Linked DNA regions of Homo sapiens: region 2 is linked to region 1. Evidence: fine-mapped expression QTL. A gene starts in region 1. The other region holds a variant in brackets. All regions are shown on one strand. Distances are from middle to middle.

Region 1 (8,351 bases):
CTAATGGCCTAAAAAGTTCTACTGAATTTGGCTCCATCTTACCTATTTGAAGTCAACTCTTGGTTTGCTTTTTAAGATCTACTCTACTCTAGCATATTGGCCTTGTTGTTCTTCCTGGCACTCATAAGGTGTATTCCCCATTTATCCTTTGCACTTTCTGCAGCGTTCTTCATCCAGCACCTGGAGTAATGCCTGGCACATGATAGGCATTCATAAGATGTTAAATTTATTCAAAAATGTTGAATGAATTCATAGATAAATAATGAATTTGTTCATTAAACGATGGATTTGTATGAGGTCATGGAGTTAAAAAAGAAAATCCTCTTTCATTTGGGTTACATACAAGTAAAGGCAAATTCCCACACTAAGTTTAAATGCTATAGTAGGAATTAGTACAGTGTGCTATGTGAAAAAGAATACAAACAACACCTCATTTAGTCTTTTGGTGAGAAAAATGTTCTCAGAAGACATAATATTTAAACAGACACCCAAAGATTGATTACAGATTGCTTCAGTAGAGAGAGCAGGTGAAAGGGAATGTAGTCTTCAGGTGAATTATAGCCATACTTTAGGTTTCACACAGTGAAGAGTGTGAAGGACAAAGTATTTACAAATGGAGAAGCGAATAGGGACTTGGTTGTCGAAAACCTTAACGACCTTGGTGGATAAAATACGGAAACAGTGAAGAATACTGAGCAAAGGAGTGGCATGATCATACCATTTTTAAAGATGATAATGGATCTAATATGGAGAATGAATTGGACATGGGCAAGTCTGAAATCAGGAACACTGGATACAATTTTATTGCTACAATATAGATAAAAGATAAAGGTGGACTAAACTAAAGCCAAGGGCGAGGCAATGGAAGACACAACTGAGCTATGCTAACTCATGCTGAATCTAAGTCTCTGCTCCATGCAGCTATGAGAATTTGAAAGGACAAACACACTCACAAACTGTGGCCTGCAGTACCATCTGGCATCTGTACTGAATGGAATTTAAGAGCAGCTGCTGCTAAGCATGGACAAATTCAATTTGTGTGAACACTTTGCACAAAACACAACCAACCTCAAAGAACTGACTTCAGGCACATAGAAAAGTATGATGTCTTACACACAATACAGCTGTACTTAGGATGCTCATTCATTCATTCCCTCATTCACAAATATTTATTGTATAATGACAAGTAGCAGGTACCTTTCTAAGAACTGTAGATATAGCATTGAACAGATAAAATCCCTGCCCTCACTGAGATTATATTCCAGTGAGGAGAAATCAAAAATAAACAGACGTCTAAAATAGTGTGTCAGATGATGATAGTTGCCATGGAGAAAAATAAGGGAGGAAAGGAGGTTAAGAAATGTCAGGGGAGGGACAAAGGCATTTTAAAACTGGAAAAAAAAAAGACAGTGAATTAGTACACTGATAAACCTTTGAGCAATATTTGAATGAGATGAGGAGTCAAGGCAGGCAGCTACCCGGATCTTAGAACACAGAAAAAATTTTCACCCAACCATGATATTTTAATACAAAATATGTAAGTGGTTTGAAGGCATCCTTTGTTTTAATAGTGCTAGGTATAATTTTATCTGGCAAGCAGGTTGGTGCTACAGCTGACCCCAGATGAACTGACTTAATTCACCTTCAGAAGCTCCTAGGTTCTCACAGATTCTTAGAGACAGGTAAAGGTCAGGGTGTGAACCAGATTCTTCCCTAGAAGCTGCTAAGTCGCTCCCTTGAGATGACATATGAAAGCATCTCTCAGGCACAGCTGGCATGTTCACAATCCTCTATCTAGCCAAGATCAGCTGTGGTTTCATTTGGAAATTATTATGCTTCAAAATTAAAAAAAATAATATGTTGAAGAAATGTGTGTACTACCATGTTCATTGCAGTATTACTCACAGGAATCAAGCAAGGTTTCCACTAGTGGATGAATGGATAACAAAGATGTCGCATATATACATAATGGAATACTATTCAACCTTTTAAAAGAGGAAGATCCTCTCATTTGTGACAATATGGATAAACCTGGAGGACATTGTTGTCTTAAGTGAAATAAGCCAGGTACATAAAAACAAATACCCAATGATTTCACTTATATGTAGAGTGTAAAAAGGTCAAACTCTATAGAAACAGGAATAAAATGGTTACCAGAGCTGCAGGGTGAGAGTATTAGGGAGATGTTGCTCAAAGTACAAAACGCAAATACACACACACACACACACAACAACAACAACAACAACAACAACCACCAAAGTTGCATTTTTTAATAAATGTATACAAATAAATAAAATAGTTTTATGTAAAACAGGAAAAAGTATACAATTAAAACAAACATCACTTGTTTTCCATCCAGAGATAAACAACTTTGTATCTTAAGCTTCTACATTCCAGATAAGCCTTAATTGCAGGGAAGAGGGGCACATATCTTTAATTTAAAAGGGCATCTTCCTTTTCTGTTTGAACAGAATTACATTGTATAGATATTACACTCAATTGTTTCTGGAATGCCATATTCTTTCAAAGGCTACATGCTGTTTTTTGGGGTATACTACCAGGCAAAGATTGGCATGTTCTATTACCAGATGCTCCCTGCTGATGTATTTGTGACCATATAGATATATTTGTTTCTAGAACATGCAGTGACATTGTTTTATTGGGGGTGACTTTTACCTGAGCCATTATAAATAGCACATTTATTTGAAGAAGGAAACCTGTTGGAGAACTGTAATATAAATTCAACAAACAAATAGTAAGACAACTGTTTCTTACTCATCACATCATTAAGAAAGTTGCTTAACATCTCTGAGCCTCAGGTTCTTCATTTGTGACATCTGTAATATCCACCTTTCTATATCTCAATTTGTTAGTAATAAAGATGACATGTGAAAGTGCCTTTTAACTGTAAAATGTCATGCAAATGCAAGCGTGTTATTAATGATTAAGGTAGTCCTTTAATGTTTCAAATCTCCTATTTGAAACTCAACTCTCAATGCTTGCATCTTCCAACTACAGGAACTCAAATGGACCCAAAGCACTAACATTAAACTACAGTGCCCCCTAGCACATGTAGGAGGTCAAGGCAGCTTACAGGCTTCATGAATAAGCTCTACCACAGATGGTTCTTTTGCCTGAGGGAAGAACTACTAATTGTACTTTTGGACAATTTCCATTTGTCCAAAAGGAAAAAACATTTACGCATTTTCTTCAATACTTTCCCGTAACATTGTTTTTATTTTAATTTTTAAAAGGGAGTAAAAAAGTTAATATCCTTTACTATGTAAATTTTCCTCTGGTGGCTTTAAATTAAGAGTATTTCTAAAAGAACAGCCCTAGATTTATCTTAAGATTCACTGTGATGTTTCTGATTTATATTTGCTTACCTACTTTCACTCACCAAATTCTTTATAATCTAGCGTGAGAGAGGATATTGTTCATTGCACTCTTCACAGAGGTAGAATACAGTTAAGCTTTTATGCAAGATTGCACAGAAAGCCGTTATTATGAGCTTCAGCCCCCTAGTTTCTATGCACATTAAATCCACCAAGAGATATAGAATCGCGTAAGGAAATGCTATAGAATATTTTAATATCAAAATGTAGAAATCTTTGCTATCACACTTTTATAAAAGCCCAGATTAAAAATATATCAATTGCATTCTTCCATAGACTACAGTTCTTTGTTTATATTTGGTTCTTAATTTCATAAATGTCTATAGAAATTTATAAGTTCAAATGTTCCAGTACGTAAATTGGTTCCCAAAGTGATGAGTCCTTAGGAAACGGAACTTGCTGTATGAGTTTATTTTTTCCATGCTGTGCATTTAAGTATTAATCAGCACAGCTTTCAGGGATTTCTTTCTAATATCCTTTTCTATGTAAGATAAGGACTGCAATTCATTATACCATTGGAGGAGCCAGAGGCTTTGCTAAGCTTTGCCTTTCTTGACCGTTCATCTCAAATTTAATGAGAGCGTTGTGTGTGTGTGTGGTGGGGGGGGGAGGGGGGTGGGTGTGTGTGTGTGTGGCTATATTATATTGGTGACTGGACTCTAACTATGGCACAATGTTGGTTGCCTTTCAGGCTAATCGTCTCTCCGTTTCAGGAGGTCAAAGATCATTTCAGCCTCAGTGTGCTTTCTACCTGCCTACTAAGGGAGGCAGCAAATTTGGTCCTGGGCAACTGAGAGGTGACTTTTATCACCAGTTATTTTTCTTCACATCTTTCTATCAACATAATAGCTCAGGGAACACTCAAGAAATAAAAAATTACACTTCACCAAGTACTAGCTTTCTGGGATGTGATCACTTCTAAGTGTGAACCTCTATTACCCTAGCAGTGGTCCCTGGCGTTCCTTTTATTCCTCTTATATATAAACATCACAAAAAATAACAACAAACCCTCAAGCCCACAGCAAAGAGAATGCAAGCACGGCACCATCCCTCTTCGTACTGCCGTTTTAACTTGGTAGAGGAGGTTAAATTTTGGAGAGAATGGTGGCATTCACAGGAGGGGCGGGGTAAAAGTGTTGTCTAATTACACGTTAATGGCAGAACTCGCCTTAACCACGTCCCTCCTGCACAGTGGTGAATTTCTCCTGTGTGTTCCTGTGTGGATCCCGACACTCTTCTCGCTTTAAGAGAGCCTCCCGCGCCCCTCACTCCGCCCCTTCCCAAGTCTCTGGGCTCGTCAAAGCTTCCCGAGAGCCATGGTTGGTCCAGGCAGGCAGTCGGAGCACCTCGTGGAGCGGCTGCTAACCCAGGGTGGGGTGGGGTGGGGTGGAGGGGTCTGCTTGTAGTACTCTCAGTCCTGATGTCACAGGCGCGGCAAGGACATCGCAAGGAGGAGTCGGATTACAGTAAGGATGGGCAGTGCAGCAGGCAGCCCGAGCGCACTCTCCAGCCGCCGGGGATCTTAGCCCTGGAAAGGCAGCCTGCAAGGCGCTCATCCCGCGGAGGAGGCACGCTCTCGGCGCTCACTGCTCTCCACGCCGGGGACATTTCCACCGAATGTAGCATGAAAGGGCTCTGCTCTACGTGCCAGCCTTGGGTGAGAGCTGATGCTGAAGACACCGCGGTGGGATTCCAGCTGTCTGATTAATGAGAAACATAATGTATTTTGGTGAGTGTTCACTCTGATGATGTAATTCTGGGGGTGTCCGGCTCTTCATCCGTGCAGACAAGCCCTTAAAAAATTCTTTAAGCAGCAAGAATATGTTACATTAAACCTACCTCCAGTTGGCAACTGGAGGACCAAGCCGGTGCAGCCTTCAAAGCTTCCTTTGTGCCACAACTGGGGCTGTTAATTTAGCCGTGGATGAGTTTAAGTTGGAAAAGAAAAGAGACAGGGACATGTGGAGGGGGCGGGGGGGTAAACTTTGCCTTGATTTGCCTGAATGAAGTTGGCTCTTTTAGCTAGGTGAAGGAGAAATAGTGCAGCGTGGGAAGTCATGAGCTAACTTAATGGAATGTGAAACAAAGTTTCTATACAATTGATGCTGTGAAAGCTTAGTCAATATGAGCATTTCATTCAGTATTTGCTGGTTTTTCTTGTTCTGAGGCGGAAAAGGAAAACATTGTCTAGTGAGCAGTGTGGTTGAGCAGCTGAGAACACTTCTCTATATCATCTCAGTGCTCTGTCTAGCTAGGAGCAGCCTAGCACAAAATGCATATTATTTGAAACCTTTAGAGGTCTCGGAGATGTCAAATATTTGTGCAGGTCAGTTTTGTGCCACGGTAGAAACCTCAGTTAGGTTTTCAGTTGAGCTGCCTGCATTTCCAGAAAGCATGTTGAGGCTTGGATCCGAGCTATCAGTTGAGCACTGGAAGTGGGCTTGGAGCTGTGCATTTGCACTCTAACGCCGCAACTTACTGCTAGTACAGGAGGCAAGCCCCTTCACTAAATAAGAAGAAGTCAAAGATAAGGACTGAATATTTGTTCCTCCTCTCTGAAGTTATGCTTTCCTTCTGTAAGTCCTATCTGGCGTCATCATTTAAGGGCATCTATGCGATATTAAAAGGTTTGATAGAGCAACTGGAGAGGGGCTAGGAAATGTATCCAAGATGCAAATGCTCTGATTTCTTGGTTTGCTTTAAATATTAAATCTAGCGTCTTCTTTCAGATTAAAGAGGTATTTAGATAAACTTAGGTTGGGGCACTATTAGTTTGTTGGAAATTTATTTCTGTATGTACTATTTGCTCTGTTTTGTTTCCTTTAGGCTTTGAGACACTTGAGAGTGTGTGGAAGGAATCTAAGTTCCAAAAGCTAAATGCCTTTAGTTGTCTTGACAGTTTTGATTTGCCTATAATTTGTATCATATTAGAAGAGAAGTCTTAAAATAGCTGAAAATGATTTGGAAGAAACAATTTCATTGCATTGCCAAATTTAAGCAGAATCTGTAGTTAAAAACCATCTCTTTCCAGTGGGTAGTAATGGAGGTGGTAAGCTTGTTTATTGGCCACTAACAGAGTTTATCATGCATATATTTTCATAAATGGAAAAGCTTGTAAAGATAATAGGTCTTTTGGACAAAATACAATTTCAGCATCAGTAATGATACTGAAGGATGATGAAACAGATTATAATTTTAGTTTATATTTTCACCCTCTTGAAACAATTCCTTATGTGATCGTCGTGAGGAAGTAGGGCCAATTAGAATAGCAGTAGAGTCTAAAAGTACTGGTCAAAGGCCATCCATGCTGGACTGGATTATCGTGTGACTATTGGAGAAATGTTCAGTGGGCTAGCTTGTGTTATTAACTGTATGCTAGTTCAGCCTCTTGTAAAGCAGAGTGATTCATAGGGTAATCAATTTCATTGTGTAATGCAAGTTTTTAATAGTACGAATTGAAATGTGATGTCCTACTTACTTTAGATGAAACTCTACTCTTTGAAAGGCAAGGCTAAAGTTGCCCTCAGTGTCTTGAACATTGTCTTACCATAATTTTGGTATAAGAAATGTTTTTCTGCTCCCAGAGGAAATCCTATGTATTCAGGAATGCTGTTTCTTTCGGGTTATGCTATGCAGCTTCTCGTACAAGCTGTTAGATATCCACAACTTTGGGAGCCCACCTGTCTCTAAAAAAAAAATGTGTGGTACAAGAGCGAGGGCAAAAAGAATTGAGCAGTACACTTCAGGCATGTTAAAATTCAATAGCATCCTAATGTTTGAAAATGCTGAAGACTATGTATTTATATATGTATGTATGTACGCACACACATATATGTGTACATGTGTATGTATCTTAATGTGTGTGCGTGTTCAAAATTGTAGCGATTTCAGGTAATTTTTCCAAGCAATGCTTTCACTTTGCAAATTGGTTGGCCATTACTTTCTTCTTCATTTTTCAACTGCAAATGGTTTATCAAGTCAGGGAGAACAGGGACAAAGGGAAAGCAATGCTGCATTCTTAGGCTTTTCTGGTGACTTGTGAGAATGGGGTAGAGATGTCACAAATCCTTTATTTGTGTCCCCAGCAGAGCGTGATGAAGAGCATGGTGATGCTATGGTACGGGTGAATTGATATGAAAGCGGGATATTTACTTCCTTTATAAATCATCTGATTTGTCAGTGTTGCCCCCCACCCCCACCCCTTCAAATATAGCTGAAGAATCACTACCTGAATAGCCTGGCTCAGCCTATCTGCTTCAATTCATTCCTCCTTCCCCTTGGGACTGGACAACTGGACCCTGCCCTTGCTTAGTTGGAGTCAGTTGTGTGTGTGTGCAAGTTGGTGGAAGATGTAATATTTTCAGATCTCAAGAACAGCTCATGTTTGTAGTGTGCTGTCTCAGACTTGCCAGAATAATAGAGCTTTCTAATGACTTAAGCCTCACTCTTATCTCCTATTGAGATTTTAGTGCAGTGTTTTCAATAATCGTTCATTTGTACTTCCTGTGCTGTGATTTCAGAGTTTGCTGTTCAGTCACCGTGGACACTTTTGTTACTTATTCTATCAATCTTGGATCTTGCATTCACCATTTGGAGTTAAATATAAGGTTCACATGGGAGAAGGAAGCAGGGAAAATCTCAGTCAGCAACCTGAGTGGGATTTACTGTAAAAGCAAGGGAAAATAATAAATACTTATAAATTTACCCTCCCACCCCCATCAATGTTTTAGATAGTTAAAAATTACATGTGCCAAAGATGAATAGCCATTAATAATTTATCCAGAAATAAAAGCAAGGCAGCTGGGAGACTTCTCCCTAGATTAAGGAAGAGAGGCTGTGGGTGGTTGTCAGTACAATGGACTGAGCTGCCCAGTTACAGTTTGGTTAAGAGGACTGTGCTGGTATGAAGGGCAGGTTATTTGCTTGAGTGCACCCCAGCAATTGCTCAGCGCCTGG
Region 2 (8,351 bases), 800 kb before region 1:
TGATGTTGAGCCTCTTTTCATATGCTTCTTAGCAATTTGTATATCTTCTTTGGAGAAAAGTCTGTTCAAGTGCTTTGCCCATTTTTAAACTATTTGTTTTTGAGTTGTAGGAGCTCTTCATTTGTTTGGTGATTTGAAGATATATGATTTATAAATACTGTCTTTCATTCCATGGGTTGCCTTTTCACTCTGTTGATTGTGTCCTTTGATGAGGAAATGTTAAATTTTGATGTAGTCCAGTTTATCTAGTTATGCTTTCATAACATACTTACCTAACATAATTTAGAATACAGTGCAATGATAGTTATAAAATGTATAACATGAATAGGATCATGTTAACGGAAAAAGTAGGAAAAAAAACTGTAAATAAGAAATCCCTAATTTAAAACATCAAAAACTAATGAATTAAGTCCCACAATGGTAAACTGAATTTTTATTTCTGAAATAGACGGTGTTCATGTTATGTATGCTGTACTTAGGTTCTAAAAGCACATTTCACACTATTTAAATAGAATAGTTTATCAGAAAACAAGTCAAACAGAAATACATGCTTTTTAAAGAATGCTTTAATCGTATACCACCAAGTATTTAAATTATAAGGCACAATACATTTATTTATGTAGTAATATATTATCCAACATATTATTGGATAATAATATTGGTAACTTTTTTGCACAAGTTATTTGAGGCTTCTTAAAATGCTAGGCAGGTTTTATTAAAGATGACTCTCTTCCTATTTATTCTACTTATTTGTATTTCTACTTATCCTTATTTGTAGCAATACAGGCATGCTTCATCATGTCAAGAAACTTTGTACTACATTCAAATTTTACCTCATACATTTATACATTCGTCTATTCAATTATTTTATTTTCAAATGTTTGCTGTGGATATGATGGTGAACAAGAGACATAATGTGTCTGTCCTCATGGAGCTTACATTTTATTAGGGGAAGATAGATATTATACATGGAATAGGTAAGCAAATCTGGCAATGTCAGAGAGGGAAAGTTTCTATGAAGGCAATAAAGTAGGAATAGCAACAGAGAAGGGGAGAACTATTCTCCAGAATGCTGGCATTGCTTATTTTACTTGTATCTATATCTAGGAGAATACTGAAAAGTTTTCTGTTAGCTAAAGTATGGTTTTCATGCTTAGTTCTTTTTTAAAAAAATCTTCAACAGTTCTTACTTTTCCATTTCAATAAGAATTTCAATGCTAAAATTTTTGGATCCAATAATTCAAACCACGAAAGAAACTTTTAGTTCTAGGATATGTGTAATGTGTGTAATGTTTGTCACAGTTTCAGTGATACTTATTATAGCATAAAGTTTCAAGATCTTGACCAAACTTAGGGCAGAGTTTTTTCCAAATTCCTTTATGATTGAACTATGGCTGAATATGATACTAGGCCTGCCAAGTTCTGTTGTTTGGTGAGAAAATTTTGTGGTATCAGTGTCACCAAGACTGTTTCAACTGTCTAGTATACAGGTATAGGAATTTACATCATCTGATTCTAGAACAATAGAATAAAAAGTTTTCCTATTTCCTACATTAGCAAAACAGCTTTCTTATCATCATTGGTTCTATGGGCCTAGCACTATCATGGGCTTCAAGCATCTCTTTGCTTGCCTTGAAGGAGAGCACTCACTGTGCAATGGGACCATTTTATCTCACAGAGTAGATTTAGAATCTTTTATTCTTGATTCTTGTTGACTCAAACCATCAAGAATTAATTTCCCAAATAAAAGATTTCATTGACTTTTTTTGGTTTTTAATTTTATGGGCCATGCATGTGCTGTCCATTTCAAGTACAGCAAAGCAAAGGAAATTCACAAATTGAAGAAGATCTACAAAATTAAAAAGTAATTATGAAATAAATGTTTGCATTGTATATACATGGTTGTAGATTGGCTTATGTGTCCCAATATGGAAAACATACTTAAGTAGCAATCTTTTGGCAATGGTATATGTGAGTTTTGGTGAGTACTGCAGTTTTAAGTTAGAAGGGTTATAAATATAGGGGTCACATGTCAAGCTGTTTTAAGGCAGATACTCTCTATTTAACATGATCTAAACTTCAGGTTAAAAGAATCTGCACCCATAACAAAATATTTATAGTCTCAGATTCCTAAGAGAATAAATGATATCTTTTGGTTCTCTGACCCCACCTTCTCAGATAGCTTCTTGAAGAAAGCAGAAGCTTACTCATTAAAAAGTAAGTGCCATGAAGTAGCAAATTTGGAGGTGGAAATTAGGAAGAAATATCCTTGGGTCCTGAAAGATATGGAAATAGATTTAAAACACATTATTGAGAAAACTAGGAATAGGGAGAAGGGGTGAAATTCTATTTGTTCTTTTTCAATTTGAATTTAAGTGATTCATGTATTACTTGTATTGAAAGGAGAGAATAGAAGTATCAAGTTGTTTTCCCTTATGTTTTTCTGCAGGTTGTGAAAAACAAACTATTAGAATATTAGAATTAACAGGAATTACAATCCTCATCTCCACCTCCGCATTTCGTAGATGGGAAAAGAGAGGTGCAGCCATGAGGTGACCTACCAAGGTCACAGAGCTAGCTTGACACAGCTAGGTTCCTCCACTGTCTCCCCTTCTCTGGCTGCAGGGAAGAGTTCAGCCTGGGTAAGACAGCCTCACTCTTCCATTTTTCAGCCTGAGTAATGAGGAGGGTGGAGATGGAAATGGCTATATCTGTGACGTGAATGTTGTTTTCACTGCCTCTATACAAGTGAGTTATTTTCATTCCTTCCTGATGTCCTTGATTTTTAATTGTAAAATGAGTGACACTTTGAACTCCCTTATAGTTTGGCTTTATTTTCTGCTACCACCAGTATGTACAAATTGTACAAATTGGAATCTTTCTCAGAGTATCTGAAGCTCTACTTTCTATCAGAAAAAGAAAAGCTGACAGGCAGTTTAGATGTATCTTTTCCTTTTTCTTTTGTGAGCGTCTTGTTGCACTGCAGGTCAATTGTCAGAAATATTTATTTAGCTGAAGTTCTCTTTCTGAGCCGACTGAGGCAAAAAGTGGTTGATTGAAAAGTCAGTGTACATGGGTTCACCACTCTGCAATCAACAGGACAATCAAAGGTGCTGGAGTGTTTTTTTTTCCAGGTTCAGGTTGCACTGCATCATGCTTGTACATACGATGCTCAGCATTTGAAGTTTAAATATTGCTGGGACTAAGAAGCCACATAAATATGACCTGAACTCTGATTGCCACCAAATTGGAATGGCATGTCTAAAGATTTTAGAGTCAGCCTTGAGTTTTGTGGCTTTACAAATTTGTAGAAGCTTTGCGAGTGTAAATAAAACTTGGAGTTTCACTCAAAATCCTGAGGAATGAATACATATATGCATAGACATACACACTTCATTGTAGCAAGCCGCTGAGGAAAACTGACAGTGCCTTGCGCTTAGAGAAGATAAAGG[A/T]GAAACACATGTACGTTGCAAGTCACAATTAAAATTCAGGAGCAGAAAAGAATTTACTTTCTATCTTTTCTGACCGTTAGTTGGAGGTTGGTTGGTTGAGGTTTTTGGCCTGTGTACAGACTTGTTATCTGAGGGTACAGTGCAGGAAAACTCATTTAGTCATCATCATCATCACCAAAATCACCACTGCCATTCTGCCACCAAATACCCGTTGCTGATTTGAGAACCTGCCACATAAGGGCATAGCACAAACAGCATGAATTGGCAGAAAGAGCTTATTCTTCTTTAAATTTTCATGGCTGGGCAATTGGCTAAGTTGCAATTTTCAAGTGACCTTCTCTCACTAAACCATATGCACACATACTCGGTCATGTAACAGCAGTCCTTTTTGAACATCTACTGTTTGTCAAGCACTTACAGGCACTAGGCATCTCTACTGTTGAATGTGATAGACATGCTCCATGCTCTTGTGGAGCTTAGAGGAGATGATAAAACAATTTTAAAGTGCTAAGTGCTCTGAGCTTGTGCAGTCCAGAAAATGTCACCAAGGAGAGAATACTTGAGCTGAGTCTGCAGGGCTTAGGCAGCATCATGTGAATATCTGGGGCAAGTCTTGCAAGGCAGAGGGAAAAGCAAGAGACAGAGCTTTAAAATAGAAATAAGCTTGAAGTATTTGAAGAACATAAAGAAGGCTAGTATAGTGGGACTATTGAAAGCAAGGAAGTAGATGGAAGAAAATGAGATTAGAGAGGTATGGGAGGGCTTGGTCTGGCTGGGCTACATAGAGAATAGTGAGGGTTCATGCTGGCACACCCCTGGAGGGTTTAAGCAGGGGGTGAGATCGGACTGCGTTTTAGAAATGTAAGGAATAGATTGATTGCAAAGTGGATGATAATGTGTGTTTCGTGAGGAAGGGATTTGTATCTGTTTCATTCACTGCTGTATCTCCAGCCCTGGAACAGTGCCTGGCAAATAAGAGGTGTGTGAGAAGTACCTGTTGAATGTACAGATAGGTATGTGTGTGTGTTCTTATGATTTTTTTTGTATTTTATTTTATTTTTAATTTTATTATTATACTTTAAGTTTTAGGGTACATGTGCACAACGTGAAGGTTTGTTACATATGTATACATGTGCCATGTTGGTGTGCTGCACCCATTAACTCGTCATTTAGCATTAGGTATATCTCCTAATGCTATCCCTCCCTCCTCCCCCCACCCCACAACAGTCCCCAGTGTGTGATGTTCCCCTTCCTGTGTCCATGTGTTCTCATTGTTCATTTCTCACCTATGAGTGAGAACATGTGGTGTTTGGTTTTTTGTCCTTGCGATAGTTTGCTGAGAATGATGGTTTCCAGTTTCATCCATGTCCCTACAAAGGACATGAACTCATCCTTTTGTATGGCTGCATAGTATTCCATGGTGTATATGTGCCACATTTTCTTCATCCAGTCTATCGTTGTTGGACATTTAGGTTGGTTCCAAGTCTTTGCTATTGTGAATAGTGCCGCAATAAACATATGTGTACATGTGTCTTTATAGCAGCATGATTTATAATCCTTTCGGTATATACCCAGTAATGGGATGGCTGGGTCAAATGGTATTTCTAGTTCAAGATCCCTGAGGAATTGCCACACTGACTTCCACAATGGTTGAACTAGTTTACAGTCCCACCAACAGTGTAAAAGTGTTCCTATTTCTCCACATCCTCTCCAGCACCGTTGTTTCCTGACTTTTTAATGATTGCCATTCTAACTGGTGTGAGATGGTATCTCATTGTGGTTTTGATTTGCATTTCTCTGATGACCAGGGATGATGAGCATTTTTTCCTGTGTTTTTTTTGGCTGCATAAATGTCTTCTTTTGAGAGGTGTCTATTCATATCCTTCGCCCACTTTTTGATGGAGTTGTTTGTTTTTTTCTTTTAAATTTGTTTGAGTTCATTGTAGATTCTGGATATTAGTCCTTTGTCAGATGAGTAGGTTGCAAAAATTTTCTCCCATTATGTAGGTTGCCTGTTCACTCTGATGGTAGTTTCTTTTGCTGTGCAGAAGCTCTTTAGTTTAATTAGATCCCATTTGTCAATTTTGGCTTTTGTTGCCATTGTTCTTATGATTTTTAACAGCTTTGTTAAGTGTCCTTTTCCCCTTCTAGAATTGCTGCATGTACTTATTTTTTCCCCTAGAAAATAGTTCTATTTATTGGAAGTTCAACTTTTTTCCCAAAGCATATTAGTAATTTGTTTTCTTTTATTTAGTCTATACATTTTATATATACGAATTATATTCCTAAAATTCCGTGCAAAGCCCTGTGCTTTTCTGACTTGTTAATCTGCTATTAATTATATTTTAGACCTTTCCTTTTTTTGTAAAAACAAAAAACAAAAAAAAATGCACCAAGAAATTTTTCTCACAAAAATTTCATTTTCTTTGTGTGTTTGTGTGTGTGTGTGTGTGTGTTAATTTAATAACTTAGTCACTAGAGATAGCTTTATTGGTTCCTTACACATTCAGCTCTATTTTATTTGCTCATTTTCTCTTTTATTATTTTACAGGATTTTGTATCAGGGTGTTTAAATTGTGCTTCTTTGCCTTGTCTCACTTCTGTAAATATATTTTAGGTTCCTAGAGAGGGCTATTTTTCCCTTTACTTGTCTGTCAAGGGTGCTTATTACTTGAATAGCACATTATAGTCTGTCTGGTGCTAGGACCACACATAATGGTAAAACTTGGACGTTTATAGAGATATTACCTCTAGACTCTACTAAGTAGATGCCCATATTGCCTTTCCTTGAAGTATTTCAGTAGCCTCTCAACTGACCTCATTGTCTATAGTTTTTCTTCATTCCAAGTTATCCTCCACTTAATGTCTCTGCTTATTAAGACAGGGGTTTGCTGATGTCACTTCCTCACTTACTTACAAAACTTTTGAAGATTCTACCTTATGTATAAAATAAATATTGGTTACAATAATGTACAATTTCAGACCTCTTACCATCTGACTCTCCCTACCACATCAGCTCCATAACTCATTTCCCTACCACCCACACCACCGTGTAGAGTTGGGCCATACTTGATTACATCCTCCTTCAATCGAAAGCACCCGCAGCCTCCTGTCTTTGTTTACATTTGTCGTCTTTGCCTGCTTTTTTCATCTCACCAAAATCTTCTCCTCCTTCAAGTGTCTCTGCAATGCCATTCTCAGACGTCTTGGACAAAACTGATGCTCGGGGAACTTTGCTTATGCTGCTGTTCTTCCTTCTTGCCTACCTGTTTGTCTTTTCCCTCCGCTCCCCTCCCCTTGCCTTCCCTTCCCACAGGGTCTTGCTCTATTGCTCAGGCTGGAGTGCAGTGGTGCAGTTATGGCTCATTGCAGCCTCAACCTCCTGGGCTCAAGTGATCCTCCTGACCCAGCCACCTGCGTAGCTAGGACTACAGGCATGCCCCACCATGTCTAGTTAATTTTTGTATATATTTTTTTCTTTGTAGAGACAGGATTTTGCCCTGTTGCCCAGGCTGGTGTTAAATTTCTGGCTCAAGCAGTTCCACCCATTTCGGCCTCCCAAAGTGCTGAGATTACAGGCGTGAGCCGCCACACCCAGGCTTGCTGTTTTATTTCTAAACTATTTCTGTCATATTTAATTGGTGACATATCTCTCCTCCTTACTGGTCTATGAATGCCTTGAAGGTGGGGGAAGAATTTGCTCATCATTTTATCACCAGAACCACATGCAGTGTTTGACCAACTGCATGGTCAGTTGAATACTCACTGAATGAGTATTCAATACTCGATGAACAAGGGAGTGACTGAGTGACCGAGTGAATAATTATGTTTGTAAGCACAGGTTGAATTGCATGGCCAGCATCATTCTCTATATTGGCAAAACTTTGTCATGTAAGGGACTCTGAGATGCTGCTATTATTGAGACAAACACTAGCTGATTGGATCACCTTGAAACTTGAGCCAGAGTAGTTGGGAGAAGGGTTTGCTCTTAAATATAAGGCATCTCAGCTATTATCCTTTTTCTGGAATGACACTGCATTCATAGTTCATGCATTTACTTTGAACAATATTTAAATAAACTTCTTATTGAAGTGTAACACTTATACATAAAAGCGTACTAGTCATAAGGAGATGGCATGAGAAATTGTCACAGCCAGGCAATCAGCACACAGCCTGTAACAGGCATTACTGATGCTGTGCATCATAGCCCTGCAGCCCACCTGGATTCAACTGCATGTGGGAAAGATGGGGTCTTGCACTTTCTCTGTCACAATGAAAAACTGTTGATAGAAAGAGGACGTGGGTGGTTAATTCCCATGGGGCAACCCTCAAACAACAGGTTGGGAGTCTGGTCCTAGGTGGCACAGACTGCTCATCCTCCTCATCCTCATCCTCCATCCTCATCCTCCAGTGAAACATGAGCAGGACAAACCTGTTCCAAATGGTTCTCAGAGAGTTAACAGCAGCAAGAATAAGCCCATACTGTCTGCAGTGGCATCGGCTCATTAGTGCAACTTTCTTTGCTTGCTTTCCCTTCTTCCCTGTCTTACCTTCTCCATGTCCTCACTTGTACTTTATGTGATCAACTCTCAAATTACATGCATCCAAATCCCTATTTCAGGGTCTACTTTCGAGAAGAGCCCAAGCTAAGACACCAGATAAGAAGCAGAATACTAGCAGAATGCTATCAGCATCCCAGAAGTCTATTTGTGCCCCTTCTCAAGGACTATACTCTTCTTCCTGCCCAAAGATAATGACTATTCTGATACCATAGATACTTTGCCATTTTTAAGTTTATATAAATAGAATTATGCAGTGTTTTCTTTTGTTTTGATTTCTTTCATTCAATTAGGTTCATGAGATTCATCTGTTTCATTTTGTGTAGCAAGTTTATTCTTT

Evidence for each region. PIP is the estimated chance that this variant, and not a neighbour inherited with it, causes the effect. A credible set is the group of variants that fine-mapping cannot tell apart.
Region 2: its variant is the best candidate, but not a certain one, in a credible set for the expression of ZNF385D in whole blood (INTERVAL, PIP 0.71).

The regions. Positions count from the first base shown.
Region 1 is chr3:21,747,668-21,756,018 of GRCh38, reverse strand. ZNF385D (zinc finger protein 385D) reads left to right here and starts at 4,809. Exons shown (of 8, transcript NM_024697.3): 1 at 4,809-5,124. The coding sequence starts at 5,103.
Region 2 is chr3:22,551,493-22,559,843 of GRCh38, reverse strand. No RefSeq gene overlaps it. Among named protein-coding and RNA genes, the nearest start is that of ZNF385D-AS2, 600 kb to the right of the region's middle. The variant A/T (reference allele first, on the strand shown) is at 3,453.